Homo sapiens: one gene and its partners. The protein of the gene in region 4 interacts with the protein of the main gene of each other region in a pairwise test. Each region holds a gene or a part of one and is shown on either strand. Other genes may lie near its edges.

Evidence for each region.
Region 1: the proteins of MOB1A (region 4) and FAM118A interact in binary tests that used the Homo sapiens proteins (3 or more experiments, as listed by UniProt).
Region 2: the proteins of MOB1A (region 4) and KXD1 interact in binary tests that used the Homo sapiens proteins (3 or more experiments, as listed by UniProt).
Region 3: the proteins of MOB1A (region 4) and IKZF4 interact in binary tests that used the Homo sapiens proteins (3 or more experiments, as listed by UniProt).

What each region holds. Positions count from the first base shown.
Region 1 is NC_000022.11:45,304,984-45,312,955, reverse strand, and holds the start of FAM118A (protein FAM118A), read right to left. Parts: upstream 3,023-7,972; 5' UTR 2,773-3,022; intron 1-2,772.
Region 2 is NC_000019.10:18,560,869-18,567,890, reverse strand, and holds part of KXD1 (kxDL motif-containing protein 1), read right to left. Parts: intron 5,856-7,022; 5' UTR 5,835-5,855; coding exon 5,734-5,834; intron 4,126-5,733; exon of another isoform or gene 4,112-4,125; intron 3,023-4,111; coding exon 2,870-3,022; intron 2,758-2,869; coding exon of another isoform or gene 2,697-2,757; exon of another isoform or gene 2,682-2,696; intron 760-2,681; coding exon 713-759; intron 1-712.
Region 3 is NC_000012.12:56,024,039-56,031,060, reverse strand, and holds part of IKZF4 (zinc finger protein Eos), read right to left. Parts: exon of another isoform or gene 6,066-7,022; coding exon of another isoform or gene 6,008-6,065; coding exon 5,903-6,007; intron 4,281-5,902; coding exon 4,020-4,280; intron 3,282-4,019; coding exon 3,114-3,281; intron 1-3,113. UniProt on the Homo sapiens protein: DNA-binding protein that binds to the 5'GGGAATRCC-3' Ikaros-binding sequence. Transcriptional repressor. Interacts with SPI1 and MITF to repress transcription of the CTSK and ACP5 promoters via recruitment of corepressors SIN3A and CTBP2.
Region 4 is NC_000002.12:74,175,868-74,182,832, forward strand, and holds the start of MOB1A (MOB kinase activator 1A), read right to left. Parts: upstream 3,013-6,965; 5' UTR 2,808-3,012; coding exon 2,794-2,807; intron 2,448-2,793; exon of another isoform or gene 2,388-2,447; coding exon of another isoform or gene 2,248-2,387; intron 1-2,247. UniProt on the Homo sapiens protein: Activator of LATS1/2 in the Hippo signaling pathway which plays a pivotal role in organ size control and tumor suppression by restricting proliferation and promoting apoptosis.

The DNA of each region.
Region 1 (7,972 bases), on a different chromosome or scaffold from region 4:
ATCACCAAAGGCCAATGGTTTAATTAAGCATGCCTACATGCTTAAGTCGTCTCCATAAAAGGCATAAAAGGGCTGGGTTCTGAGAGCTTCCTGAGAGATAAATACAAACATGCCGAAGTTTCTGGAGAATGGTACACCCCGGGGAGGGCACAGAAGCTCTGCACAGCATCCCCCACGCCTCACCCTACGCATCTTCTCATCTGTGTCCTTTGCGATATCTTTCATAACAAACCAGTAAACCTGAGTGTTTCCCTGAGTTCTGTGAGCTGTTCCATAGCAATTTTGAGACAGTCTTGCTCTGTCTCCCAGGCTGGAATGCAGTGTCAAAATCTCAGCTCATTGCAACCTCAGCCTTCCGGGTTCAAGGGATTCTCGTGCCTCAGCCTCCTGAGTAGCTGAGATTACAGGTGCACACCACCATGCCCAGCTAATTTTTTGTATTTTTAGTAGAGATGGGGTTCTGCTATGTTGGCCAGGCTGGTCTCGAACTGCCGACCTCAGATGATCTACCCTCCTCGGCCTACCAAAGTGCTAGGATTACAGGCGTGAGCCACCGCGACTGGCAAATTAATCAAACCTAAGGAAGGGTCATGGGAACCCCAACTTGAAGCTGATCGATCAGAAGTTCCAGAGGCTCAGGCTTGTGACTGGTGTCCGAAGGGGTGGAGGGCAGTCTTGGGGGACTGAGCCCTCAACTTGCGAGATTTGATGCTATCTCCAGGTAGTATCAGAACTGAATTGGAAGATACCCAGTTGGTGTCTCTTGCACAAATGACTGCCCGCTTGGTGGCAGGGAGAAACCTCTCCTCACATTTGGTCACAGAAGACATCTCTGTTGATTGTCGTTGAGTGAGATAATAGAAAAAGCACGATGGGTGGTTTTTCCACACACAGGTTCTCTTCAGGACCCCTAGCCCAGCATGGTCCTGGCCCACCTCTGAGACTCAGCCTCTCCCCACCCTGCCCCACTGCGTCCTGTGTGGTCATTAGACTATGGTGAAGCACACACACACAGTCACCATGAAGCACTAAGGCGACCACAGACCCTACGGTAATAGGACAAAAACCTCACTTAAAGTTCAGACCCCAGGCTCAGACAGGAAAGAGCGGGAACCAGTCTTCTGGGCCTGGGCTTTCAGAAGCTTAGCCCCGTTCCAGAAAGCCACAGTCCCCCACTACCACCGCCTTGGTCCAGGTCACCCCCATCTCTCATAGGGTCTTGCTTCCTCCAAAAAAGTCTCCCCACCACAGCCACATGGATGGTTCAAAAACACACCAACTCCCGCCCCTCTCCTCCCAAAGCCCTTCAATGGCCACCCACTCCCTTTAAGTACCAAACCCTCCACTCAGCTTAAACTGGGCATGCTTTGGTCCTGACTGGCTCTCAGAATCACACCCTCTTTCTTGTCACTCCCACCTCAAACCCAGTACTCTGCAAAAGTCCCAGCTTCTCCCATACCAGGTCTCTAGCGAGACACTTCCCTCACTTCTCCCCCTGACCACCTCCCACCTTCCTTCAGCTCAGCTGGATCATTTCTCAGGACAATGGCAGGTGCAGTCGTTCAAGAAAGGGCCAAGGGCACGGTGGGCCTCCGGGAGCAAAGCTGGGTTCTCCGCAGTTAGCATTCACTCCCACGCCACCTTCATTAGGTGTGCTCCAGCCACACCTCCCGCCTTCCAACACTGTGTGCCGTGGCAGCCTCTCTGCCTTTTGACATACTGGCTGTCCCCTGAAACTCTGCCTGGAATGACCCTGGCAAACTTCTCCTCTAGCTCAACCTTCAAGAATCAGCTCACCTGCTGCTTAGCATCTCCTCCCCACGACTCCTAAGACGCCCTCCTTAACACCCACCCCTTCCCAGAATCCCATGCCCACCCAGATGGGTTCCCTGCCAGCGACGACACAGCTTCCTCCAGATAAAAACGACCTACTTGTCTTATGCCCCAGGTCCCTAGGCCCTGACAGCAGGGACCGTCTCATCTCTATTTCCAGTGTCAATTCCTGGAGCCTATCAGGCATTCAAAAACAAAATGTTAGTTCCTTGAATGAAAAAATTAAGGAGGAGACAACCTAAAAGCGTCCCCATGTGCCCTAACTCGCTCCCTCCCCGGTTCGGCCGCCCTCGGCCACCTCAGGTCTCCTGCTCTATAGACTGTCCTGTGGGGCCACCTGAGTCTCAGCAGAACATTAAAACTTAAACCCGGCCCTGCACCTGCAGGCGCGGGGACCACAGCTTAGGAGGTGGTCGTCGGGCGCGCTGTTACCGTCTTAAGTTATCACCAGACCTGGGAACACTTCCACCCACGCCCCGCAGGTCCAGGGACCTCAAGTTGGAGAAACCTAGCCCTGAGATCAGGTCGGAGAGGGAGCCTCAGGGTGGGCGGCACGGGGACCCGGGGTCTCGCGGGGCTAAGGACACTGGGAACCACGGCTCCCCACAGGAAGATGCCCCGGGCCTGGGGGCTTCTGAGGAGGTTGCTGGAAGCAAGTCCCAAGGGAACCTCGAGAGTTTCCGGAACCAACAGTTCTCAGGGCCCACTAGCGGCCGGGGTCCTCAGGGGGTCTCGGAGTCCAGAGAAAATCTTGGAGTTTCGGGGTTCGCGGGCCTGGAGGGGCAGGGCGGATCCTGAGGGGGTCTCGGGGGCAGGGGCTCCAGGGGAAGAGCTGAGAGGGAGTCCTGGGGTGGCCCCGGGGCCGGGGCGGATCCTGAGGATCTCGGGGTCCCCAGGGGCTCCGGATGCAGGGACCGCGGGCCCGCCCCGCCCCCTCACCTGCGGCGCCTCCGAGACGCTGGTCCCAGCTCGCGCTGCCACCTCTTCGCCTCCGCAGCCGGCTACGCCTCCGGGGTCTCTCGGCGGCCGCGCACCCCTGACGCTGGGCGGGGCAAGGGGATGGTTCTCGGGGAGGGGACTGCGCAGGCACGCGGGCTAGAAGCGAGAGCGAGAGCCGGAGTCGGAGCCAGAGCGGACGCCACGCCGCCTCCAGGCGCCCCTCCGCGTTAGCCGGCAGCGGCGCCGCCGCAAACCCTTCCCCCGCGCGCCCGCCCCAGCCGCGTGAACGTTCCGTCCCGAAACCAACGGCCCCGCGGTCCCCGGAGGCCCCGCCCCGGGGAAGGGCGAAGCCAGGACGCGCGCCCCGCCCCGCCCCGCCGCCAGATCCTCTGGCACCGCCCACCTCGGTGACCACGGTCCCGCCCACCGGGGAGGCCACGCCCCCGGGGTCTCCAGCGCAGGCGCGGTCGGATGTGCGGGGGAGGGCTTGCGCTGGGGAGCGCTTGGGCCTAGAGTCCGCGTCCTAGCCCTACCTGGCCCGGCGAGCCGCGCGTCCCGTTTCCTCATTTGCAGAAAGGGGGCGGGAGCACTTTGCAGGGACGTGGCGAGCATCAAGTGCGATCGGAAGCGCTCCTTTGCAACTGCATCCTGCACCACACTTAGGCACAGCTTCTGTCCCCAACCCAGACCTGAGGCTGGTCTCCGTCCCCCAGCAGACTCCTGCCCGCTTAAATTGGCCAGTCACCAGCCCTACCTTCTTTCTTTTTCAGAGTACTTGTCACTCTCCGAAATTAGGTACGCTTGTGACTGGCTCCCACTTCCCCTGAGAGCCGGTACCTTGTCCGTCTTGTCCACTGGGGGTTCCCAGAAGCCAGCACGGCGCTGGGCACACCATGGCCGCCCACATGTTTGTGCGTGCGTGAGTGTCTTCCCCGCGCTCTTCCCTCATCAAGAAATACTCTTCCCCGAGGCTGAGAATTTCTCCTAAAAATACAAGAAATACTCTTCCCCAGCTTAGGTTCGATCCGGCGAGGCCCCCTGACTCCTCGCGCATCCCTGTCGCAGGTGCCGCGTCCGTAAAGGGTGTGATCCTAGCACCTACCTTGTGGGTATTGCGAGGACTGAGATTGTGCGTGGGTGGGCTGGGCACGGGCCCCCTAGCGATCTTATTACTCCTCCTTTGTCTGCCACTGAAGTCTTTTACCTAAACAAGACCCAATCCACTTCCTCTTCCCAGCCTGCCCTGCCCAACCTGGAGTCATTTATTACTTCCTGTCTCCTTGGCACCTTTTTTTCCTGCCTGATTTTAAAGTTGGCTGTTAATATCTCCCCCTACCCTAGCCCACCAGAAAGCTCTCATTTTGTGACAGAAGGTAGTGTTGTGTTAGCGGCCTGTGAAATTTTAGGGGGGGCCAGAGCCCAGAAAACAGTGGGAGCAGTGACTCTGGGATGAAGAGGGCAGCCCCTGGGTGCTCTGTATGTGGGGTCAGGCACTCCCTGAGCACTTTGCATGCGTTCCTTCATGGTGTTCTTGGAACAACCCTATGAGGAAGGCGTCTTCATTGTTATTCCAGTTTAACAAGGGGAAGCTCAGGCCCAAGAGGTTGTGTAGTTCCATGCCTCAGCCCACACATGTAACCACCACTGCATACAGCTCCCCAACCCCTGGAGGTGCGACTTAAATGCAAAAAAAGGCCGGTGGCTCACGCCTGTAATCTCAGCACTTTGGGAGGCTGAGGCAGGTGGATCACCTGAAGTCAGCAGTTCCAGACCAGCCTGGGCAACCTGGCAAAACCTCATCTCTACTGAAAATACAAAAATTAGCCGGGCGTGGTGGCGGACACCTGTAATCCCAGCTACTCGGGAGGCTGAGGCAGGAGAATCACTTGAACCCGGGTGGCAGAGGCAGCAGTGAGCTGAGATCATGCCACTTCACTCCAGCCCGGGCAACAGAGCGAGACTCTGTCTCAAAAAAAATTTTTTTTAATGCAAAAGATATATAATTCAGTTCATGAACACCTGCTCCTGTACTGGGTGCTGAAGCCCGAGACCTGTGGGAGATGTGGCCCCTTCCCTCATGGAGCTCCCAGGCCCCAGCAAGGATTTTGATTAACAGGACCTTATGGGCTGGGTGCTGCCGAGGTCAGTCAGACCCAAGACTCTGCGCAGGGCATCCTCTGAGGGGTGGTGGGACCAAAGCAATCGTAACCTCCAGCCACATTCAGCACCATCTGAGATAGGCTGGGAGCCTCAGCCCCTCCACCCAAAAACTCAGCCAGTCAGCCTTACAAGAGCAAGGACAGCAGGAAGGATGCCTCAGGAACAAGGGCTCCCCTTTTCCCCACATCTGAGAGAAACACAGCTTTTTCTCAGGTTGTGGAAAATTACTGAGAGACACTGCCCCCTGGGCACCTTGACCATTCTGAGTAGATAAGGGGGCAGATATGGCAGGTTGGCAAGAGGTCAGCGTGGTGCTGATGTGTGGGTGTGACACATCACTGGGCACTGTGGGGTGTCCGTGTCTGTCCCAGCCTCCACGCAGCCGACGTGAGCACAGCTCACACTAATGAAGATGTATGTGCACAGCAAGCCTTGTCGTCAGGAGCCCAGCGACCAGACCTAGTCCATATCTTTCCTTTTTAAAAGTTTTCAAATTAAAATATATTTTTTAAATTTTTAATTATTTTTCATGGAGACAGAGTCTCACCATGTCTCCACCAGTCCAGGCTGGTCTTGAACTCCTGGGCTCAAGTGATCCTCCCACCTCAGCCTCCCAAAGTGCTGGGATTACAGGCATGAGCCACCGCATCCAGCCCAGACTCAATCTATTTGTGTATTGAGGGTATCTTGAGGGGCGTTGGTGCATTTGGAATGTACATACCTGTGTGTGGGCATATACACTACTGTGAATTGAGCACCTACTGTGTGTCAGGCGCTATTCTAAGCTCTTCATAGGCATACCTTTCCTCACTGTCGCTGCCACCCTGCGTGGTAGGTGTTATTAATCTCCTTTAACAGACCAAAAAACAGGCTCAGAGGCGTTAGAGCAACTAGTCCGAGCTGGTAAGTGGGCATCTGCTTGGAATTGCTGCCAGGGTCTGTCTGGCTGCAGAAGGAGCTTTGTTTTGCACTGTCAGAAAAGAGAGAGCCAACAGATTCACAGGCAGGGTCCCTGGTGGGATGCTCTAAAGAATGGACAGAAAGGACACCAGAGACCACATAACAGTCCTCCCATCCTGGAGAGGAAGTTGTTGCTTTATTCTCTGGACAAACCCACATCATAACACATATATGCCCTGCACCGGTGTACAAGAACACACCCCACAGAGATAACACGCACCATGCAATATACACCCTCACACTGTGTGTGTCATTACACATACATGCTGTAAACACACTCATGGTAAAGGAGCTAATCAAGCCTTTTAGAGCCTCCCCACATGCCACCCATGCCCATGTCTATTTCCTGTAGAAACTCTCCTGCTGCTCCCTGCATCCGGGCAGGCTGGCAGGAGGGGCTGTGATGCCATTGCTGAGCAGCAGGCGGGGTGTGTATGGCAGGCAGGGGAAGGGAAGAGGGGAGCCTGCACCTTGGAAAAGTCTCTCTGGCCCTCCTTCTCCGTCAGCTCGTCTCCTTTCCCCAGACCCCACCCGTGCCCCAGCTCAGGACCCCTTACTGCTGGCCTGGAAGTTTTGCAACAGGCTGCTCTGAGGTCTCCACTCACCAGTCCATGTCACCTGCCACCAAGACACGCCATGTCCGGGAGGACTGGCAGGAGCACTGAACAATATCTGCTGAACACCCGCTGTGTAAGGAGCCGAGGACATAGCGGGAAAACCAGCACTGCCCTCGTGGAGCTGACAACATGGTGCGCCAGGCCCCTATTGACTCCAATAAGAATGGCACCATGTCCAAGAGGCCGAAGAAGAGACCCAGAGCCAGTGAATGAGACATGGAGTTTATTGAGGACTTAGATACAAAAGTGATCCAGTGGCAGTGGCCTGGACAGGAGAAACACTATCATTTGTAAAAAGCATGCAATTTATATAGCAATTTTTGTGGAGCCCTCTCCACCTAGCAACCTCCATTTAAGCCACAACAAAGGGCCTGGATCCCCTGTACGGCCTGCATTCCAAGGGACCAACAGGCCAGGGGTTCAGATCTCTTCATAGAAAAGAAGTGAGACTCCTAGTTGGCCACTCCCAGATTCCTTAGCTCAAGACTCCAAACACACTTTCTTCTTAGACCAAAGGGTCATTTTCAGGGTATGCTTAAGTTACTGCTGTCAGGTCCATCTGCCATTCACAGCGTAGTGGGTGGGGAAATGGACAGTGAACCCGGGTGTCAGGGCGTGATGAGGCTATGAAGACAAATGAAGTTGTGTAAGGGACAGATGTTGCTACAAAATTTAAAGGGCAAGACATAGACTGAAGAAATTTGCAAAATATATGTCAGACCAAGGACCTAATCTAGAATATAACAAGAACACTCACAGTTCAATAAGAAGGGGCCAGGCACGGTGGCCCAAGCCTGTATTCCCAGCACTTTGGGAGGCCGAGGTGGGAGGATTGCTTGAAGCTGGGAGTTTGAGACCAGCCTGGGCAACATAGTGAGACCCCTGTCTCAACTAAAAAAATTTAAAAATTAGCCAGACATGATGGTGTACCTCTGTAGTCCCAGCTACTTGGGAAGCTGAGACAGCAGGAGTGCTTGAGTGAAGCAGTTGGGAGGTTTCAGTGAGGTATGATTGTGCCACTGTGCTCCAGCCTAGGTGACAGAGCGAGACCCTGTCTCTAAAACAATAAATAAGAAGAAGGTCAACAACTCAATCTTAAAAATCTGTGTAAGGCTGGGCACAGTGGCTTACACCTACAATCCCAGCACTTTGGGAGGCCGAGGCTGGCAAATTGCTTGAGCTCAGGAGTTCAAGACCAGCCTCAGCAACATGACGAAACTGCGTCTCTACAAAAAATAAAAAAATTAGCTGGGTGTGGTGATGCATTCCTGTGGTCCCAGCTACTCGGGAGTCTGAGATGAAAGGATCACTTGAGCCCAGGAGGCAGAGGTTGCAGTCAGCTGAGATCGCGCCACTTCACTCCAGCCTGCATGACAGGGCAAGACCCTGTCTCAAAAAAAAAAAAAAAAAAAAAAAAAAACCACACTGGGCAAAAGATTTGAACAGATACTTCCCCAAAGATA
Region 2 (7,022 bases), on a different chromosome or scaffold from region 4:
TGGGGTTAGGCCTACAGGAGCCCTGAGGGCGAACCTGGCTCACTGCACTACCTGGGCTAGGTATATGACCTCCCCTCAGCCCAGCTCCCTGCTCTGTAAACTGCTGTTGGAGGCCCTGGGATGGAGAGCTGTCGGCCTTTTCAACAGATGGTGTGAACCCAGGCTCAGCCTGCAGAGCCCTTTAAGGTGGTGGCAACATGGAATGGTACCCCAGAGAACACGCGAGCTCTCTAGCCAGACAGATGCGAACTCAAGTCCTGCCCCTCTGGGCCTCTGTTTCCCTCTCCATGAAACGGTGATACTCACAGTCCCCACCCCATGGGTGACTGTGGGTAACAGCTGGACATGGGACAGATCCTCGAAGCTGGGGCTCAGGGAAGGCGAGACGATGTCGGGGCTGGTGTCACATGAGCCCGTGCTCTGTTCTGAGATGGCTCATAATGCACACAGGGATAAGGATTGTCATGCTGCTTATCCACATTCTCCTGTGCGGCCTCCCCACGGGGCACGGACTCCCGTCCTAGTGCCCACTCTGCCAGCTGCTGACAGGACCAGGCCAGCACCCTGACCCTGCCCCCACCCCAGGTTTCCCCAGACCCACTGCCCATTACAGCCTGGTCTCAGTATCAGGCCCCAAGGTGGCCTTCCAGAAGCCTGCCCTGGGTGGAGAGTGCTGACGTGCTCGGGAGCAGGAACCCTGCGTGACACTTACGGCTGAAGGCCTCTGGGTGCTGCCTGGCCAGTTTCCCTTTCAGCGTCCTGCAGGGGAGAGAAGGCACACAGGGCTTAACCTGCTGAGCAGGTAGGCTGGGCCTGGTGCTGGCCACAAGCCCCTGCTGCCAGCTGAGGGCAAGGGGAGACGGGAGTGAGAACCCCCACACTGTTCATCACCTCACATCTTCACTCTCTCTAGGTGCTCGGCCCAGCAGCCACGGCCCTGACAGTCGCCCACCAGCCGGCCTCCAGCCCCAAGGTAGGCACCAACCCCCAACTAGTTAGACTCTGGGTGCTCTGAGCCTAGGCACTGGCTGGGGGCTCCCCCTGCGAGGCTGCTTCTTACATGTGGCCTCTTCTCTGATAAATTTTTTTTTTTTTTTTGAGACAGAATCTCACTCTGTCGCCCAGGGTGGAGTGCAGTGGTGCCATCCTGGCTCACTGCAACCTCCACCTTCCGGATTCACATGATTGTCCTCCCTCAGCCTCCCAAGTAGCTGGGATTACAGGCACGTGCCACCATGCTCAGCTGATTTTTTTGTATTTTTAGTAGAGACGGGATTTCATCATGTTGGCCAGGCTGGTCTCAAACTTCTGACCTCAGGTGATCTGCCTGCGTCAGCCTCCCTAACTGCTGGGATTACAGGCATGAGCCACTGTGCCCAGCCATTCCTGCCTTTTCATTATGTGTCTAGCACTATGTTACTTTTTTTTTTTTTTTGAGACGGAGTCTCGCTCTGTCGCCCAGGCTTGAGTGCAGTGGCGCGATCTCGGCTCACCTCCTGGGTTCATGCCATTCTCCTGCCTCAGCCTCCCGAGTAGCTGGCAATACAGACGCCCACCACCACGCCCAGCTAATTTTTTGTATTTTTAGTATTTTTTGTATTTTTAGTAGAGACGGGGTTTCACCATGTTAGCCGGGATGGTCTTGATCTCCTGACCTCGTGATCCGCCTGCCTCGGCCTCCCAAAGTGCTGGGATTACAGGCATGGGCCACCTCGCCCAGCCGCACTGTGTTACATTTTTTAAGAATAAATAAACTGCAAGGCTGGGCATGATGGCTCATGCCTATAATCCCAGCACTTTGGGAGGTCGAGGTGGATGGATCATCTGAGGCCAGGACTTCGAGATGAGCCTGGCCAACATGGGGAAACCCTGTCTCTACTAAAAAAATACAAAAATTACACAAAATACAAAAATTAGGCTCACACCTGTAATCCCAACACTTTAGGAGGCCGAGGCAGGCAGAGTGCTGGAGCTCAGGAGTTTGAGACTAGCCTGGGCAACACGGTGAAATCTCGTCTCTACTAAAATACAAAAAATCAGCTGGGCGTGGCAGCATGCGCCTGTAGTCCCAGCTACTCAGGAGGCTGAAGCAGGAGAATCGCTTGAACCTGGGAGGCGGAGGTTGCAGTGAGCTGACATTGCACCACTGCACTCCAGCCTGGGCGACAGAGCAAGACTCCACCTCAAAAATAAAACAACAACAACAAAAATTAGCTGGGTGTGGTACAGTATGTCTGTAGACCCAGCTACTCAGAAGGCTGAAGCACAAGAATCGCTTGAATCCAGGAGGCAGAGGTTGCAGTGAGCCAAGATCACGCCACTGCACTCCAGCCAGGGCCACAGATCAAGACTCTGTCTCGGCCGGGCGCAGTGGCTCACGCCTGTAATCCCAGCACTTTGGGAGGCCAAGGCGGCTGGATCACGAGGTCAGGAGATCGAGACCATCCTGACTACTAACACGGTGAAACCCCATCTCCACTAAAAATACAAAAAATTCTCCAGGCGTGGTGGTAGGCACCTGTAATCCCAGCTACTCCGGAGACTGAGGCAGGAGAATGGCGTGAGCCCGGGAAGCGGAGCTTGCAGTGAGCTGAGGTCGCGCCACTGCACTCCAGCCTGGGCAACAGAGCGAGACTCCGTCTCCAAAAAAAAAAAAAAAACTCTGTCTCGATCAATTAATCAATCAGTAAATAAACTTACGTCAAGATTTTATCCCAGGGTTGGAATTGTCCCAGACACTTAAGTGCGCAGTGAAGCCTTGTAAAACAAACAGAAATCTCCCTTTACCCTGGTATGTGAAGGAAACTGAGGCTCAGATGGGGAGGTGGAGGCAGAGGTCAGCTGGGCTGGGGTGGCACTGAGCACCCACCTGATACGGCGGAAGATGCTGTCCAGGTCCCGTTTCATCTCTACTAGGGTCCTCGTGTGGTGCAGGAAGCGTTCGCTCATCTGCTGCAGGCGGGCACTGGACAGGTTGTTGAAGTTGAGCAGCATCTCATTGGTCTTCTCAAAGCGGTCCAGCCTGATGGTGGAGAGAGGGCATGAGCTTCACTGCCCAGCTTCAGGGCCCTGCCCAACCTGGCCCAGAAGACTGTTCATGCCAAGCCCTTGCCTGCTTCACAACCTTTGCATGGGCTGTTCCCTTGTCCTGCAGAGTTCTACCTACTCTTTGAGCCACCTAGCAAACTCCTATTCAACCTTCAAAACCCTACTCAAGTGTGTCCTTCTCATGTAGCCTTGTCTACCTCTATTCAGTCAGACTTTTTTTGAGACAGAGTCTTGCTTCGTCACCCAGGCTGGAGTGCAGTGGCGCGATCTCGGCTCACTGCAAGCTCCGTCTCCCAGGTTCATACCATTCTCCTGCCTCAGCCTCCCGAGTATAGCTGGGACTACAGGCGTCCGCCACCATGCCTGGCTAATTTTTTGTATTTTTAGTAGAGACGAGGTTTCACCAGGTTAGCCAGGATGGTCTCGATCTCCTGACCTCGTGATCCACCCACCTCGGCCTCCCAAAGTGCTGGGATTACAGGAGTGAGCCATCGTGCCTGGCCCAATCAGACTCTTTTAATTCCACTAGCCCCAGGTTGTTCCTCTGGCCCAGCCCTGACACCATAGGGCCAGGAGGGTCTGTGTCTGGCTTTGTCTCCCCTCAGTCTAGAAGTTTCCCAGAGCCAGGTCTGAATCTGACCTAAAAAAACAGGAGACCAGCCGGGCATGGGGGCTCATGCCTGCAATTCCAGCGCTTTGGGAGGTCAAGGCAGGCAGATCATGAGGTCAGGAGTTCGAGACCAGCCTTGCCAACATGGGAAAACCGCGTCTCTACCAAAAATACAAAAATTGGCTGGGCATGGTGGCGGGCGCCTGTAATCCCAGCTACTCGGGAGGCTGAGGCAGGAGAATCATTTGAACCCGGGAGGCGGACATAGCAGTGACCTGAGATTGCGCCACTGCACTCCAGCCTGGGTGACAGTGCGAAACTATGTCTCAAAAAAAAGGAGACCAGCACTTTAGGAGGTTGAGGCAGGGTGGATCACTTGAGGTCTGGCCAACATGGTGAAACCACATCTCTTCTAAAAATAAAAAAATCAGGGCCGGGCACGGTGGCTCACACCTGTAATCCCAGCACTTTGGGAGGCTGAGGCGGGCGGATCACGAAGTCAAGAGATTGAGACCATTCTGGTCAACGTGGTGAAACCCCGTCTCTACTAAAAATACAAAAATTAGCTGGCCGTGGTGGCGCACACCTGTAGTCCCAGCTACTTGGAAGGCTGAGGCAGTAGAATCGCTTGAACCCAGCAGGCAGAGGTTGCAGTGAGCTGAGATTGCGCCACTGTGCTCCAGCCTGGCGAGAGAGCGAGACTCCGTCACAAAAAAAAAATCAGCCAGGCATGGTGGTGCATGCCTATAATCCCAGCGACTCAGGAGGCTGAAGCAGGAGAATCACTTGACCCAGGAGGCAGAGGATGTAGTGAGCAGCAATTATGCTATTGCATTCCAGCCTGGGCGACAGAGTGAGACTCTGTCTCCCAAAAAAAAAAAAAAAAAAGACACAGGAGAGAGACAGGTACTATTGAGACTCGGAGCTGCTCTGGGTCTGGGAGAAAAGGTAAGGAAATCAGGTCTGTACTGTGTCGTGACAGCTGAGAAGAGCCTCTGGCTCAGAGACACAAAAACAAAGCTGCGGGAGGCTGTGCTTCCACTCCAAGACTGTATTAGCCCAGTGGTGTCCAGTCTTTTCATTTCCCTGGGCCACATTGGAAGAAGAATTGTCTTGGGCCACACATAAAATACACTAACACTAACGACAGCTGATGAGTTAAGAAAGAAAAAGAAAAAAATCACAAAAAAAATCTCGTAATGTTTTAAGAAAGTTTACGAATTTGTGTTGGCCCACATTCAAAGGGTTGGACAGGCCGAGGGTTGGACAAGCTTGGTATTAGCCTTTCTTCCCCACAGGGCAGGCCTGAATTAGGGCAAGGTTTCAGCAGCCACAGCACCAAACCCCAGTGAGGACAAGAGGCCTTTATGTCCGCTCCAAGAGACCCTGGGCACTGTGCAGACACAGCCTGGGCTCTGGGAGACTAGTCCTTCACCAGGAAGTAGGCGCACCAGCATAAAACCTGCATAAAGGCCAGGCACAGTGGCTCAGGCCTATAATCCCAGGACTTCGGGAGGCCGAGGCGGGTGGATCACTTGAGGTCAGGAGTTCGAGACCAGCCTGACCAACATGATGAAAGCCCGTCTCTACTAAAAATACAAAAATTAGCTGGGCATGGTGGCACATGCTTGTAATCCCAGCTACTCAGAGGGCTGAGGCAGGAGAAATCGCTTGAACTCGGGAGGCGGAGGTTGCAGTGAGGCAAGGTCACACCATTGCACTCTAGCCTGGGCAACAAGAGCAAAACTCTGTCTCAAAAACAAGAAACAAATAAACAAAAAAACCTGCATGTGGCCCCCTCTGGTCCTTCAACTCTCCCACCCCAGGTCTCGGGACAGGAGCCCCTGCGGCCCCCGCCAAGCCATCCGCAGCTGCAAAATCTCCCCAAAGCCCTGCTTCCTGTGCCAAGGCCTCGCCTCCAGGCCGGGAAGGAATTTACTTTGGAGCCAGCGACAGATTTGCTCATTTCCTTCATTTTATCACCAGTGTGGGCCCCGGGTAGGGGCGGGCAAGACAAGAATGTTGGCCAGCCTGTGGATTCCTTCCCACGCTCAGGTCCCCCAGCCGCCACTCACATGTTCTTCTGGGCCAGGATGATGGCGTTGACATCATCTGTGTTCACCATGCTCAGGATGCGGCCGCAGAAGACCCTCGAGGCCGAGTCCGGGAGGTCCATCTCTTTCTCCTCCTCCGCTGCCTGAAACAGGCAAGAACAGAGTGGTCTGCACTAGTCACCAGGTGAGGTGGGACCAAGAGGCCAGGCCGGGACCGCCATGTGCTGGAACCTAACCCAACCGTGGTGGTATCCTACAGTGGGGATGTGTGACTGTGGCTCAGTCATGCCACCTGAACCTCAGGTGTGCCACCCCAGGAATTTGGAGGTATTGGGCAAACTAAGAGAGGTTGTATTTGTAAACTGTACCCAAGCACATTAGAATCCCATCACCTCCCACTTCCATGAGCCCAAGGCCACAGGTACCTCTCACCTGCACAGATCTGCCAGCTTCCTCCCTCATCCCCTGCCTAACAACTGCTGTCCTCACAAGCTGAACGTGTGTGGCTGCTTCAGCAAATCATCACCACCTCCAATGTCTCCTCTCCCAAGAGGTCAATGACTCCTGTTCCCGTCACTCTTACCGCTTCTCTTACTACTTGACCTCGTTTTTTTATTTCTTTTTGATACAGAGTTTCACTCCTGTCACCCAGGCTGGAGTGCAATGGCGCGATCTTGGCTTAGCGCAACCTCCGCCTCCCAGGTTCAAGCGATTCTCCTGCCTCACCCTCCCAAGTAGCTGGGATTACAGGTGCCCGCCACCACGCCTGGCTAATTTTTGTATTTTTTAGTAGAGACGGGGTTTCACCATTTTGGCCAGGCTGGTCTCGAACTACTGACCTCAGGTGATCCACTCGCCTCAGCCTCCCAAAGTGCTGGGATTACAGGCATGAGCCACCGCGCCCAGGCTACTTTACCTTGTTTTTGTTTGTTTGTTTGTTAAGAGACAGGGTCTCGCTATGTTGCCTAGGCTGCTCTTAAATTCCTAGGCTGACACGACCCTTTTGCCTTGGCCTCCCAAAGTGCTAGGATTACAGGCCTGAGCCACTGCGCCCAGCCACCCTTTACCTTGATTTAACTGCTTCACTGGTTCACCTCTTCATGAAATTATCCTAGTTATCAGCTAACCCGTTTGCCTGTCACCGCCACAACGTCAGCTCCAAAAGAGCAGAGGTGGCCAGGTGCTGTGGCTCACGCCTGTAATCCTAGCACTCTGGGAGGGCGAGGCAGGTGGATCACGAGGTCAGGAGTTCGAGACCAGCCTGGCCAACATAGTGAAACCCCATCTCTACTAAAAATACAAAAATTAGC
Region 3 (7,022 bases), on a different chromosome or scaffold from region 4:
AGGATGGTCTCAATCTCCTGACCTCATGATCTGTCTGCCTCAGCCTCCCAAAGGCTAGGATGACAGGCGTGAGCCACCATGCCCAGCAAACATTTATCATTTCTTTGTATTGGGAACATTCAAAATAATCTCTTCTAGCGATTTTGAAATATACAATAAATTATTGTTAACTACAGTCATTCTACTATGCTGTGGAACACTACAACTTATGCCTCCCATCTAACTGTAATCTTGTACCCATTAACCAGCCTCTCGCTATCCACCTACTCCCAACCCTTCTCAGTCAGCCTCTGGTAACCACTGTTCTACTCTCTACTTTTTTTTTTTTTTTGAGACGGAGTTTCACCCTTGTTGCCCAGGCTGGAGTGCAATGGCGCGATCTTGGCTTACTGCAACCTCTGCCTCCTGGGCTCAAGGAATTCTCCTGTCTCAGCCTCCCGAGTAGCAGGGATTACAGGCATGCGCCACCACGCCTGGCTAATTTTGTATTTTTAGTAGAAACAGGGTTTCTCCATGTTGGTCAGGCTGGTCTTGAACTCCTGACCTCAGGTGATCTGCCCGCCTTGGCCTCCCAAAGTGCTGGGATTACAGGCGTGAGCCACCGTGCCTGGCTTTTTTTTTTTTTTCCCCAAGATGGGGTCTCACTCTGTCACCCAGACTGGAGTGCAATGACATGATCACAGGACACTGAAGTCTTGACCTCCCAGGTTCAAGTGATCCTCCCTGTCTCAGCCTCCTGAGTAGCTGGGACTACAGGTGTGTGCCACCACACCTAGTTTTTGTTTTTGTTTTTGTTTTTGTTTTTGTAGTAGAGACGAAGTCTCACTATGTTGCTCTGGCTGGTCTCAAACTCCTGGGCTCAAGCGATCCACCCGCCTTGGCTTCCCAAACTGCTGGGATGATAGACGTGAGCCACTGCACCCAACCTACTCCGTGCTTCTATGAGATCAACTTTTTTAGCTCCCACATGAGTGAGAACATGCATCCAGTCTCTTTTTTCTTATAATAGGGGTTGCAACAGAAAGCACTTCACAGAGATGGGACCTGACAGTATATCTGTGTCTGCTTCTGTTGTTAATAATCTACAGATCAACATCCAAAATCTACCCAGTTCACCTCACTGTGTAGTTGGTAAGAATTCTAGGGGCCAAGCCATCCTTGTTCCAAACCAGCAGGGGGAGCAGCCCCTTTTCTGAGGAAAAGGAGTATGTATTTCTGGCACTGGACCTTGATGGGGTTCCAGCTAGGCTGAAGAATAGCTATGTGACCCGCAACTCATTTTTCCCCCCAACAGCTTCATTTTCCTTGTCAACAAAATGGGGATAATCACATCTACCTTGGAATTGTTATGAGGATCACATGGAGAAACACAAGTGAAATGCTCTGTAGATATAAAGCATGTATCAACGATGATCTTTCTCCCTGTTTCTCCACATACATAGAGATAAAGAGGTCCCAATTACAAGGTGGGAGAACCTGGAACAAGGTAAGTGGATGGAGAAAGTAGAGGGTGATGAAATGATTGCTCTGTCCCTTTAAATCCTGGCTCAGGAGAGTTTAAGAAGAGAAAAATAGCCAGGAAAGTTTCCAAGGACAGACCCTACTAATTCTTTCCCCCTTCCTTTCTTCCTGCCTTTTCCCAATCTTGAGCTCCCTCCTTCCTGCCAGCTCAGCTCCTGGCCTCTTCCCAAGTCCAAGCCAAAAGCCTAAAGCTTAGTAAAATGCCTAAAAAGTGCTATCTGTCCAGCTGATTCAGACAGATACTGATTCAAACAGTCTTGACTGGGCTAGAAAACCTTGTTAATCCAGTTTCCCAGCACTGTTCCAAACATTGATCTCTAGGTACCCTCTGGACTTTCTCTTGCCTCTGGGAAGGTGACAACCTCTTGGGATAGGGAACAGAAATAGGATACTCTTTTCCTATTTGGAAGTCCTAGGCTCCCTTTTTTGCAATTTGAGAGGGCTATGGATATTTCCAGGAGCCAGAAGGAAGTAAAGGAGAGGACAGACTGGTTGCTCAAGACCTCTGGTGGTGTGGGAGGAAGGAGGGTGAAGATGATGACAGGTGTGGGGCCTGAGGCAGATGGGAGTGAGAGGAGGGATTTCCCAGGGGCTTAGATGTTGGGGGTAATAGGGCATGGATTGTGGCATCAACAATCTAAAATATAAAAGTCAGGAAAGCCCAGGCACAGTGGCTGACACCACGCCTGTAATCCCAGTACTTCAGGAGGCTGAGGTGGGCCGATTGCTTGAGATCAAGAGTTCAAGACAAGCCTGGGCAGCATAGGGAGATCCTGTCTCTACAAAAAAATAGAAAAATTAGCTGGGTGTGGCAGTATCCTTCCAGCTACTCAGGAAGCTGAGGTGGGAGGATGGCTTGAGCTCAGGAGATCAAGACTGCAGGGAGCCAAAATTGCACCACTACACTCCAGCCTGGGCAACAGTGTGAGACACCGTCTTGAAAAAACAAAAAACAAACAAAAGTCAGGGAAGGGTGACTTTTTTTTTTTTTTTTTTTTTTTTTTTTTGAGACTGAGTGTCGCTCAGTCGCCCAGGCTAGAGTGCAATGGCGCGATCTCAGCTCACTGCAAGCTCCGCCTCCCGGGTTCACGCCATTCTCCAGCCTCAGCCTCCCAAGTAGCTGGGACTACAGGTGCCTGCCACCATGCCCGGCTAATTTTTTTTTTTTTTGTATTTTTAGTAGAGACAGGGTTTCACCATTTTGGCCAGGATGGTCTCGATCTCCTGACCTCGTGATCCGCCCATCTTGGCCTCCCAAAGTGCTGGGATTACAGGCGTGAGCCACCGCGCCAGGCCAAGGGTGACCGTTAACAGCCAAGAACATTGCTCCTATTCCTTTTGCTCCAAGTAGATGGATTTTACATCCATATGGTGGATGTAAAATACCCCATCAAGGTGTCTCCCAAATTTCCCATGAAGCCTTGCTGCCCAGAGGATGGGTGAGAGAGGCAGGGGGCCCTATCTGCTCTGTAAATGCTCCCCCCTCCTCAATGACAGACACTGGAACTCCCCAAATACAAGAGAAGTCACTGAGCTCTACATACTGGGTGTGTTGGAGCCTCATTCCCTCCTCCCACTGGACAGACACTGACCTGAGTGTGTGCGGAGGTGACCAGTGAGTGCATCACGCCGGCGGCAGGCATAGTTGCAGAAGGGACATTTAAAGGGCTTCTCCCCAGAGTGCAGCTTGATGTGGCGCAGCAGGTTCCCCTTCTGGGTGAAGGAGGCACCACACTGGTTGCAATGGAAGGGCCTTTCACCTGCAAGTGAAAGAACAAATCCCAGAGGACTGCATGTGAGGAACTTTGAAGGTTGAACCTATCACCCACCCTCTGCCCTACCTTGCCCAAGGGAAGGTGCTCTGAACACATTGCTGACGGGCAGAAGTGCAATGCACACAAACCCTGATTTATGAAGATCCCTTGGGGATCCCTGGGGTCTTACCCTGGGGAAGGTGTGGATTAGAGGTGTGTGGCAGGGAGAGGGGCCTGGAACACGAGGCCAAAAGACTGTTACCAAAAACTGAGCCCCACAGGGCCCACTCTGCCCTAGGAGCCCAAGGCCCAAGGAAGCTGAGAAGAGAAGGCTTTTGTTTTCTGTTTTGTTGTTGTTGTTGTTGTTGTTGTTTTTTAATTATTAGATGGGAGGGCCCAAAGAATACCCAGGAGTCTTACCCCTATTGGACCATTGGCTCATTCTTGAGTCTACACTTTCCCCTCCCTCATATACTGAGAAAAATATCACCTTTTCTTTATAACAGCGGTTGAGGAGAGTGCCAGGAAACTAAAGGTATTGAGGGGAATTCAAATTCTGTACCCACCCCCACCCTGCCTCGTTTTGTCAGCTGGAAAATGTGCTGGGTGAGACCCTTCCCTTTCTGAGGCTACCCACTCCCTGCATGACCTCCTCCAGCCCCATACCTGCTGTTGTCCCAGCACTGCCCCTGCCTCTCAACCCCACCCTGGGAGCTCCTCCCAGAGCCCCTCTGGCTTACTTACCAGTGTGACTGCGCTTGTGCACCATGAGCACGTTGGGTCCAATACAGACCATGCCGCAGACGTCACACTTGAGCTTGCCATTGGGCAGCCGGATGCCCCCAGGGGAGTGAGGCTCTGGCCCACTCCCATCACAGTAGCCCAGGGGCTCAGACAATGAATCTTCCACAATCACGCTGTCGTCCTTTTCCAGGAGCCGCTCATCTGGCCCCAGCAGTCTGCTTGACTCCTCATCGCTGTACATCTCCACCTTGATGGAGTTGGCTGAGGGGTGGGATGGTGTTTAGAATAGAGAGAGGCAAAGGGGGAAGCTGCTCCCAGGCCAGAATGGCACTCTTTTTTTTTTTTTTTTTTTGAGATGGAATTTCGCTCTTGTTGCCCAGGCTGGAGTGCAGTGGCACGAATTTGGCTCGACGCAACCTCCACCTCCCAGATTCAAGTGATTCTCCTGCCTCAGCCTCCTGAGTAGCTGGGATTACAGGCATGTACCATCACACCCAGCTAATTTGGTATTTTTAGAACAGACAGGGTTTCTCCATGTTGGTCAGGATGGTCTCGAACTTCCAACCTCAGGTGATCTGCCTGCCTTGGCCTCCCAAAGTGCTGGGATTACAGGTGTGAGCCACTGCGCCTGGCCCAGAATGGCACTCTTAAAGTTTAAGAGGGTGTCTTTAGGCCCTGAGACATTCAAGCCTTAAATGGAACTAACACCCTAGTATCCCTGCTGCTGATATCAGAATCCTACTGGAACCTGAGACAACCTTTTCTCCCACCCACCAGGCAAATAGGCTTCAAGAGAAAAAAGTTGGGCCGGGTGTGGTGGCTCACGCCTGTAATCCCAGCAATTTGGGAGGCCAAGGCGGGTGGATTCTTTTGAGGTCAGGAGTTTGAGACCAGCCTGGCCAACATGGTGAAACCCTGTCTTTACTAAAAATACAAAAATTAGCTGGGCATGGTGGTGTACGCCTGTAATCCCAGCTACTTCGGAGGCTGAGGCAGGAGAATCGCTTGAACTTGGGAGGCGGAGGTTGCAGTGAGCTGAGATCACGCCACTGCAGTCCAGCCTGGGCGACAGAGCAAGACTCCATCTCAAAAAGAAAAAAGTTGGGGGTACATAGGATGTCTTCTGTCGCTGAGGAGAGGAGGCGACTAAGGGGAGCTTTTTTCTCTACTCTCTTGTCATGAAGAAAGATGTCTGGCTTGGCCCTGGGCAGGAAGCCAGCAAGTTAACAGTGGCGGGAAAACAGATCTAGGAAGACTGAAGGGGGACAACAGGCCAAAGAGAGCAAACCTGGAAGACAGACATGCTTACAGTTCCCTCCCACCTCATTAGATTGAATCCCTCTACCCCCTCCACCTCCATAAAACTCTGAGGCAGGGCAGGAGGGGTAAAGGAAGGAGGAACCATTGAGGAGAAGGCTTTGGCTCTAGCTCCGACCTACATTCCTGGCTACTCCAACCATTTAGAGAATGTCACAGATCTAGGGCCAGCTGGGGAGAGGCAGTCATGGGGACCCTGTCTGGGTAGGAGAATGAGCTGTGGGGAGATGGGGAGGTCCTTCTACTCTCTATTTCCTATCTAACTCCATCTGATGACCATTTCTATCTACCTGCTTCTCTAATTCCATAATTTCTCTTTGAAACTTTTACCTTAATCCCACCCATACCTCTTTTAATTCCACCCTAGTCTGCCAGTGACTGACTATTCACTCTCCTTTCAGAAGCCAGAAAAACCCTAGACACTGGGCTCCTCATTGCTCTTAGAGACTAAGCAGGAGACCAGCAGGAGGTGACGATGGGGAAATGGTTGCCAGTGGAAGGTGAATTGAAGGCCAAATGCAACAGGGGGTGCCTACTGCCAGGAGGTGGTAGGAGGTTACACTTACCACTGAGTGAGCGGCTAGGAGAAGAGTGCTGGCTGTTGGGGGTGCTCACCGAGGGCCCCACTGGGGCCCCGAGGAACTCCTTCTCCAGAGATGAGTCCCCGCTACCTTGGAGGAGAGAACAAGAGGGCAGGTAAAGCTGGAGCTGGAGATATCTACTGTCCATTGCCTAATCTTTTAAAAAAATTCAGTTAAATTTCACAAACATTTCCTTCATAGCCATGTACAAAGCAGTGTTGTATGCTGGGCACCATACCTTGTGCCCCCGCCAGTCTGGATGCCTGGTGCTGCCTTCTGTGAGCTCAGTGGCTGGGCCTTGCCTACCCTACCTTTATCTAGGCCTGAGGGCAAGAGCATCACTGCCTGACGTCCACAGGAAGCAGGGCTGAGGCTGGGTGCGCCAGGGCGGAGAGGAAAATGGGGGCTGCAGAAGGGACAGATGTTCAGGACAGACATTCTTCCCTACTGTTCCTCTCTGGAGCCCCCAGCCGGTTCAGGATCTGCAGGAAAGGTAACTGGAATTGTCCTTGAATCTAATGATAATATTAGTAATCATCATAGCAGCTAATAATATTAATTGAGTACTTACTATGTGCCAGGCTTTATTCTGTGCACTTGAAATGAATAATTTCATTTAATCCTCACAACAACTATATGAAGTAGGTGCTAATATCATGATTTTTTCAGATGAGGCAACTGAGGTACAAAAGAGGTTATGTTAGTTGTCTAAGGTTACATAGCTGCTAGTGTGGAACTGGGATCATAGACAGTAAGCGTCCATGTCCTTAACCAGCACCTACACAGCCAATTGGTGGTCACAATCTTAGTAGGGAAGAATTGGGCCTCTTAGACTTTCTAAATTCAGCAAAAATTTGATTACTCTAGAAAGTCTCCTACTGATCTGATTCCAATCACGTGTTTACTATTTGATATTCATTGACAGTTAAGTGATCAACTTATTCTCAGTATATTTGTTTTAATTTTCTGATAAATTGCTTTGTAAAAATGCTTTTTGAGGCTTTCATAATGTTTTTCAAAATCAGATAACATACCTAAAGGAAGATATGAATGTCTTTTTTAAAAAAATCCCTCCTCCCCACAATCTTCTACACAAATATATAGG
Region 4 (6,965 bases):
GATTACTTCTAGGAAGAGGAATGGAATAGAACTATGGACTTTTACTTTACCTGAGTAATTTGGAATTTAAATAAGACTGATTAAGAAGTAAAAAAGAGCCGGGTGCAGTGGCTCACACCTGTAATCCCAGCACTCTGGGAGGGCAAGGCGGGTGGATCACTTGAGGTCAGGAGTTTGAGACCACCCTGACCAACATAGTGAAACCCCGCCTCTACTACACACACACACACACACACACACACACACACACACACACAAACTAGCCGGGCGTGGTGGCAAGTGCCTGTAATCCCAGCTACTTGGGAGGCTGAGGCAGGAGAATTGCTTGAACCCGGGATGCAGAGGTTGCAGTGAGCTGAGATCGCACCACTGCACTCCAGCCTAGGCAACAGAGTGAGACCCTGTCTCAAAAAAAAAAAAAAAAAAAAAAAGGAGGTAAAAAAGAATGATGAAAACACTAAAAATCATATCTGAAAAGTTTTTAACATGATAAAAAAAACTATATTGAACAAGGAAGAAAATATTTGCAAATCATAGATGTGATAAAGACTTGTATCTAGAATGTATAAAGAAGTCCTACAACTCAAAAAGACAGCCCAATTTAAAAACAGGCAAGGCCGGGCGCAGTGGCTCACGCGTGTAATCCCTGCACTTTGGGAGGCCGAGGTGGGCGGATCACTAGGTCAGGATATTGAGACCATCTTGGCTAACACGGTGAAACCCCGTCTCTACTAAAAACACAAAATATTAGCCAGGCATGGTGGCAGGCGCCTGTAGTCCCAGCTACTTGGGAGACTGAGGCAGGAGAATGGCGTGAACCCGGGAGGCGGAGCTTACAGTGAGCCGAGATTGAGCCACTGCACTCCAGCCTGGGCGACAGAGCAAGACTCTGTCTCAAAAAAAAAAAAAAAGAAAATTAACAAGTGCTATGAGAGGTGTGGGGAAATTGGACCCCTCATAGAGTACTTATGGGAATGTAAAATGGTGCAGCACTTTGAAGTTTGGCAGTTCCTCAAAAGGTTAAACATAGTTACCACTTAAGCCAGCAATTCTGCTCCTAAGTATATACCCAAGAGATATGAACACATACATCCACGCAAAAACCTGTCACATATGTTCACAGCAGCATTATTCATAATGGCCAAAAAGCGGGAACAACTCAAGTGTCCATCAAGAAGGCCAAGTTTTAAAAAAAGAAAGTCTCGGCCGAGTGCGGGAGTGGATCATCTGAGGTCAGGAGTTCGAGACCAGCCTGGCCAACATGATGAAACCCAGTCTCCACTAAAAATACAAAAATGAGCCAGGTGTGGTGGCCGGCGCCTGTAATCCCAGCTACTCGGGAGTGTGAGGCAGGAGAGTCGCTTGAACCCGGGAGGCAGAGGTTGCAGTGAGCCGAGACCGTGCCATCCCCGGAGGCAGAGGTTGCAGTGAGCCGAGACCGTGCCATTGCACTCTAGCCTGGAGGACAGAGCGAAACTCCGTCTCAAAAAATAAAAAAAAAGAAAAAGTCTCGTATTAAGGTCCACAAAGCAACTGTGCATTCACTAATTAAATATCAACTCGTAAGAAAAAAGTGGAGGAGGGAGGAATACTTCTATTAATATGGAAGTTAAATCTAAATCATACAGGCTTTTTGACAAGGTAATCGTATTTTAGAGACCATTCATTTACGAGAATAACCCAAAGGAAGGAAAATGAGACGCAGATAAACATATTCTGAGTAGTGCTATTTTATAATAGTAAATACTGGAAGGAATCCCAGTTTCTCACAATAAAGTGGGTAAACTCTGGTTATAAAAAATAAAAAAAAAACTATATAGTGTTTTTATATTGTATTTAATAAAAATGTCAAGCATGTGGATTACATCCATAACTAAAATTGGATAATTATTCAATCACAAAACACACATTTAAGCAATATACAAGGTAGAGAGAGACACCTGAGAATAAAAAATACTGTGCCAGAGCAATGCTTCTCAAACCTTAATGTGCATAAGAATCATCAGGGAATTTACAAGCTTTTTCATTTTAGCCTTGTTTGGTTGGGCTCAGGCATTATCTCTAAAATGAGATTCTAAGGTATGCCTATCAAGTTAATTGCTGTAGTGCACTAAAATGGCAATACTGTGTTTCTGCAATGGGACTATGAATTTGTTTTAACTTTCCAAATTATTTATAATACTGCAATGTACTATATAATAATGCTGTATGGTATATTACATAATGATTAAAAACACAGGATTCTACCGAGGACAAGAGAAGTTGGTTAAAATCAAAGCCAGTAAGTGGGCAGAATCAGAACTGGACAGAACGATCCGACTCCAAGGCCAGCATCTTAACTTCAAGCTTCTCAAACTGCGGCAACGCACATTCTCCTGGGGCGGCATTTAACACCGACAATAATGAAACTGGACCTATAACCGAGCAACGAGTTAAGTCGGCAAGGACGGTTTCTAGAAGCTCGAGACAAGAGAAACTGGGGGCTCGCGGCTCCGCCCCCAGATCGTCTCCCCGCCCTCGGGGGCGCTCGGGCGGAAAAGTTTGGAGGCGCGACGGCCCCGGGGCCTTTCTACTCCCCAGCCTTCACGCTCCGTTTCCTTTACTTCGACCTTCATCTCTGTCGGCCTCTCCCAACATCTCGGCCTCCCCCGCGGACCCGAACAGAGGCAAAACAAACGCCAGCTACCCCGCCCCCGCCTCGGCCCCCAGGCCGAGCCCTCGCCTCAGGTCCGGGGAGGCCTCCCCCACAACCTCGGCCCGCAGGCCCGGCGCCCGCGGCCCGACCCCACTCACAAGAGGAAGCTCATCTTCGGTCCTCAGAGGGGAGGCGAGGGGCCCCTGGCCCCCGCCTGGATCAGGATTCGGAGCTGGCTAGAGGGAGCGGACCGTCCTTAGCTCACGGGCAGCGGAAGCCGGGCCGCCGCCGCTCGGAGCCGGGTTTCTGGCCGCTGCGAGCCTTTGCAAACCTCGGCGCCCGCCTTGCCCGCCTACCCCACCTCGCAGACCCGAAATGCGGAACCAACAAAATCTCGCGAGCTAAGGTTTCGCTGCGCCGGGAGGGACTTGTCGCGCCCCCTTTCGCTCCGCCTCGTCCTAGAACTCGGCCAATCATCGCTCTCCAAGCCAGGACCTCCCTCCCCCGGAGGCGTGGCGAGGATGGCGGTCCTGCGGAAGGGGCAGTGGCTGGTCCTGCTCTTAGAGTATCTTGGTGCTGCTGGGTTTCGATCCCGCTCCCTAGGTTATGCAGGGACCTCTATAAGCGCTGCGTACTCCTGCAATTTTTAAAATTGTTAATTTAATTTTTACTTGAAATATATTCACATAGCATAAAATCTGTCCTTTAAACATGTACCCTCTAGTGGTCTTTTTCGGTTTTTTCTTTCTTTTTTTTTTTTTTTTCTGAGGTGTCTCGCTCTGTCGCCCAGACTGGAGTTCACAGTTCACTGCAGCCTGGACTTCCTGGGCTTAAGTGATCCTCTCGCCTCAGCCTCCCGAGTAGCTGAGACCACAGGTGCCTGCCACCACGCCCGGCTAATTTTCTCAAAGTTTTTGCAGAGACGAGCGTCTCACTGTGTTGCCCAAGCTGGTCTTGGACTCCTGAGCTCAAGGGATCCTCCTGGTTTGACCTCCCAAAATGCTGGGATCACAGGTGTGAGCCACTGCCTCCGGCTTTGTTTATGTTTTCAAAGTGTGCCAACCATCAGCACTAATTTTTTTTTTTTTTTTGACAGAGTCTCACTTTGTAACCCAGGCTGGAATGCAGTGGTGCAATCTCGGCCCGTTGCAACCTCTGCCTTCCAGATTCAAGTGATTCTCATGCCTCAGCCTCCCGAGTAGCTGGGATCACAGTCGTGCGCCACCACACCCGTCTAATTTTTGTATTTTTTTTTTTTTTTTTTTTTAGTAAAGACGGGGTTTCGCCATGTTGGCCAGGCTGGTCTCGGTCTTGAACTCCTGACCTCAAGTGGTCCACCCGCCTCGGCCTCCCAAAGCTGGGATTACAGGCGTGAGCCACCGCGCCCAGCCTAACCATAATTTTAGGCCATTTTCATCACCCCGAAAAGAAACCCCATACCTATTAGCAGTTACTCTTTATTACCCACCTCCCTCCTCCCAACCCCTGGCAACCACTACTCTACTTTCTATTTCCATGGATTTACCTAATCTGGACATTTCATATACACTGTGAATGGAAGCATACATTATGTGGTCTTTTGTGACTGACTTCTTTCACTTAGCATAATGTTTTAAAACGCACCCATATTGTAGCATGTATCAAAGCTTCATTACTGGCCAGGCACAGTTGTGGCTTACGCCTGTAATCCCAGCACTTTGGGAGTCTGAGGCTGGCGGATCACTTGAGCTCAGGAGTTCGAGACCAGCCTGGGCAACATGGTGAAACCCCGCCTCTACAAAAACACAAAAATTAGCCAGGCGTAATGGTGTGTGCCAGTGGTCACAGCTATTCGGGAGGCTGAGGCGGGAGGATTCCTTGAGTCCAGGAGATGGAGGCTGCAGTGAGCCAAGATGGCGCCACTTCACTCCAGCCTGGGTGACAGAGCCAGATCCTGTCTCTAAAACAAAAAAAAAAAAAAGAAAAAAGAAAAAAACTTTATTTCTTTCTATGGATGAGTAATATTCCATTATGTGAATATACCACATTCTGTTTACCCATTCATCTGTTGAGGAACATTTGGGTTGTTTCCACTTTTTGTCTATTATTAATAATGCTGTCGTGAACATTCATGTACAGGCTTTTGTGTGGTATTAATGCCAAGTGACAGCCAAGCAACGCCTTCATTCCACCATGGTGGAATGAAGAAAACAAAAGGAAAATAGTGGGAGACTTCAGTCATAGCTCAGCAAATGGTGGTGCAGGGTGCTCAATGTAAAGGAGTTTGCCCTGTACCTGACTGCACAATGTTCATGTTTCCAGTAATTTTATTTCATTCATATATCACTTGTCACATTAAGTTAATGATGTTAGGGCACATGAGACTGTATTAAATTATATTTACTATTTCTTGAATATATTTTTCAGTCAGTTATGTAAAGCAAATTTACATACTCTTTTTCCTCCCCTGAAAAAAATAAATTAATAATTTTAATTTTTTAAACTTTTGTAGTTTTTTGGAATTTGATTTATAAATAAATGCGATTTGATATCGCTATATGGAAGTTACAAATATAGGAACACAGATTTAGGCCGGGCGAGGTGGCTCACACCTGTAATCCCAGCACTTTGTGAGGCTAAAGTGGGCAGATCACTTGAGCTCAGGGGTTTGGGACCAGCCTAGGCAACATGGCAAACCCCCATCTCTACAAAAAAAAAAAAAGATAGCCGGGTGTGGGGGTGCACGCCTATAGTCCCAGCTACTTGGGAAGCTGAGGCGGGAGGATGGGTTGAGCCCTGGAGGTAGAGGCTGCAACGAGCCGAGATCACACCACTGTACTCCAGCCTGGGTGACAAAAGTGAGGCCCTGTCTCAAAAAAAAAAAAGAAAAAAGGTACATCTATTTATACTTCTGTGGTAATTTATATTACTTAAATAATATCATAAAAACAATTTCCAAATAACATGGGAAAAAAGAAATTCATGAAAGGTTTCCCTCTTTCAATGGTATTTTTCTTCAAGTTGAAGAATCACTGAGGATAGAAGTCCAGCTATTTATAAGAAAAACCTTTCAGGATGGCTAAATTTGGTTGGGGTAGCAGGGAGGGAGGATTTCAGGGTTAGGGAAAAATCCTCAATCAATATTTAAGCACGATATCAACATAGTTCACTTAGATATCAAAGATAAGATTTTTCCAGTAAAAGAGAGAAAAAGAAATTGTTCATTGCTAATTGCTACAGGACAATTTGTTCCCTACCAGACAAGGTCTATACAAAGACCGAAGAAGTTTTATTCACTTCTTGGCTTAGCCGGCCAGAGATCACTGCACACCATCTGGTCACAGCAGATGCTGAAAGCAGAAGCTAAGCGGCAAATTATGAGGCCTCCAGGACTAGATCTTCTGAACCTCTCCCCACCCGCCTTTCATCACACACAGTTCCCCTTTCTAGCTCCCTGAGGCAGGATTTGCAACTCTGCATTTTCATTCTGTGTAAGTGCCCATCCTATCATTTGCAAAACTCCCGTTTTACCCTAACAACCTCACCCACACAGGGCATCTTCCCACTTTGGTCGCAGTAACGTTCCTGCCCCTCCCAGCCAGTTGGTGCTGTTGGGAGCTCAAGCTTTTTTTTTTTTTTTTAAACAAAAACAAACAAACAAAAAACTCTACTCCTGTGACAGATTAAGGAATTTTAATCTTTGTCACAAATAGGTGAAGAGAAACAAACAGTAAAGTTGCTAACCAGCCTGGGCAACATGGTGAAACCCCTTCTCTACAAAAAATACAAAAATTAGCTGGGCATGGTGACTTGAGTCTGTAGTCCCAGCTACTCTGGAGGCTGAGGTGGGAGGATCCCTTGAGCCCAGGAAGTCCAGGCTGCAGTGAAAGGAGACTGTGCCACTGCACTCCAGCCTGGGCATCAGAGAGAGACCCTGCCTCAAAAAAATAAAAATAAAATAAAATAAGTTGGTAAGCTGTCCCTGTCCATTATCTCAGTACTCAGGTTGCAGACTTTGCAGACTGTGAAGGAGAAATCCCAATTTATCAGAAATCAAAAACTCACTCAGCGGCTGGGCATGGTCGCTTACGCCTGTAATCCCAGCACTTTGGGAGGCCAAGGTCGGCAGATCACTTGAAGCCAAGAGTTCGAGACCAGCCTGGCCAACATGGTGAAACCCCCATCTCTACTAAAAATACAAAAATTAGCCGGGCGTGGTGGCGTGCACCTGTGGTCCCAGCTACTAGGGAGGCTGAGGCAGGAGAATCACTTGAACCCTGGAGGCGGAGGTTGCAGTGAGCCGAAATCGCACCACTGCACTCCAGCCTGGACGACAGAGCCAGACTCTGTC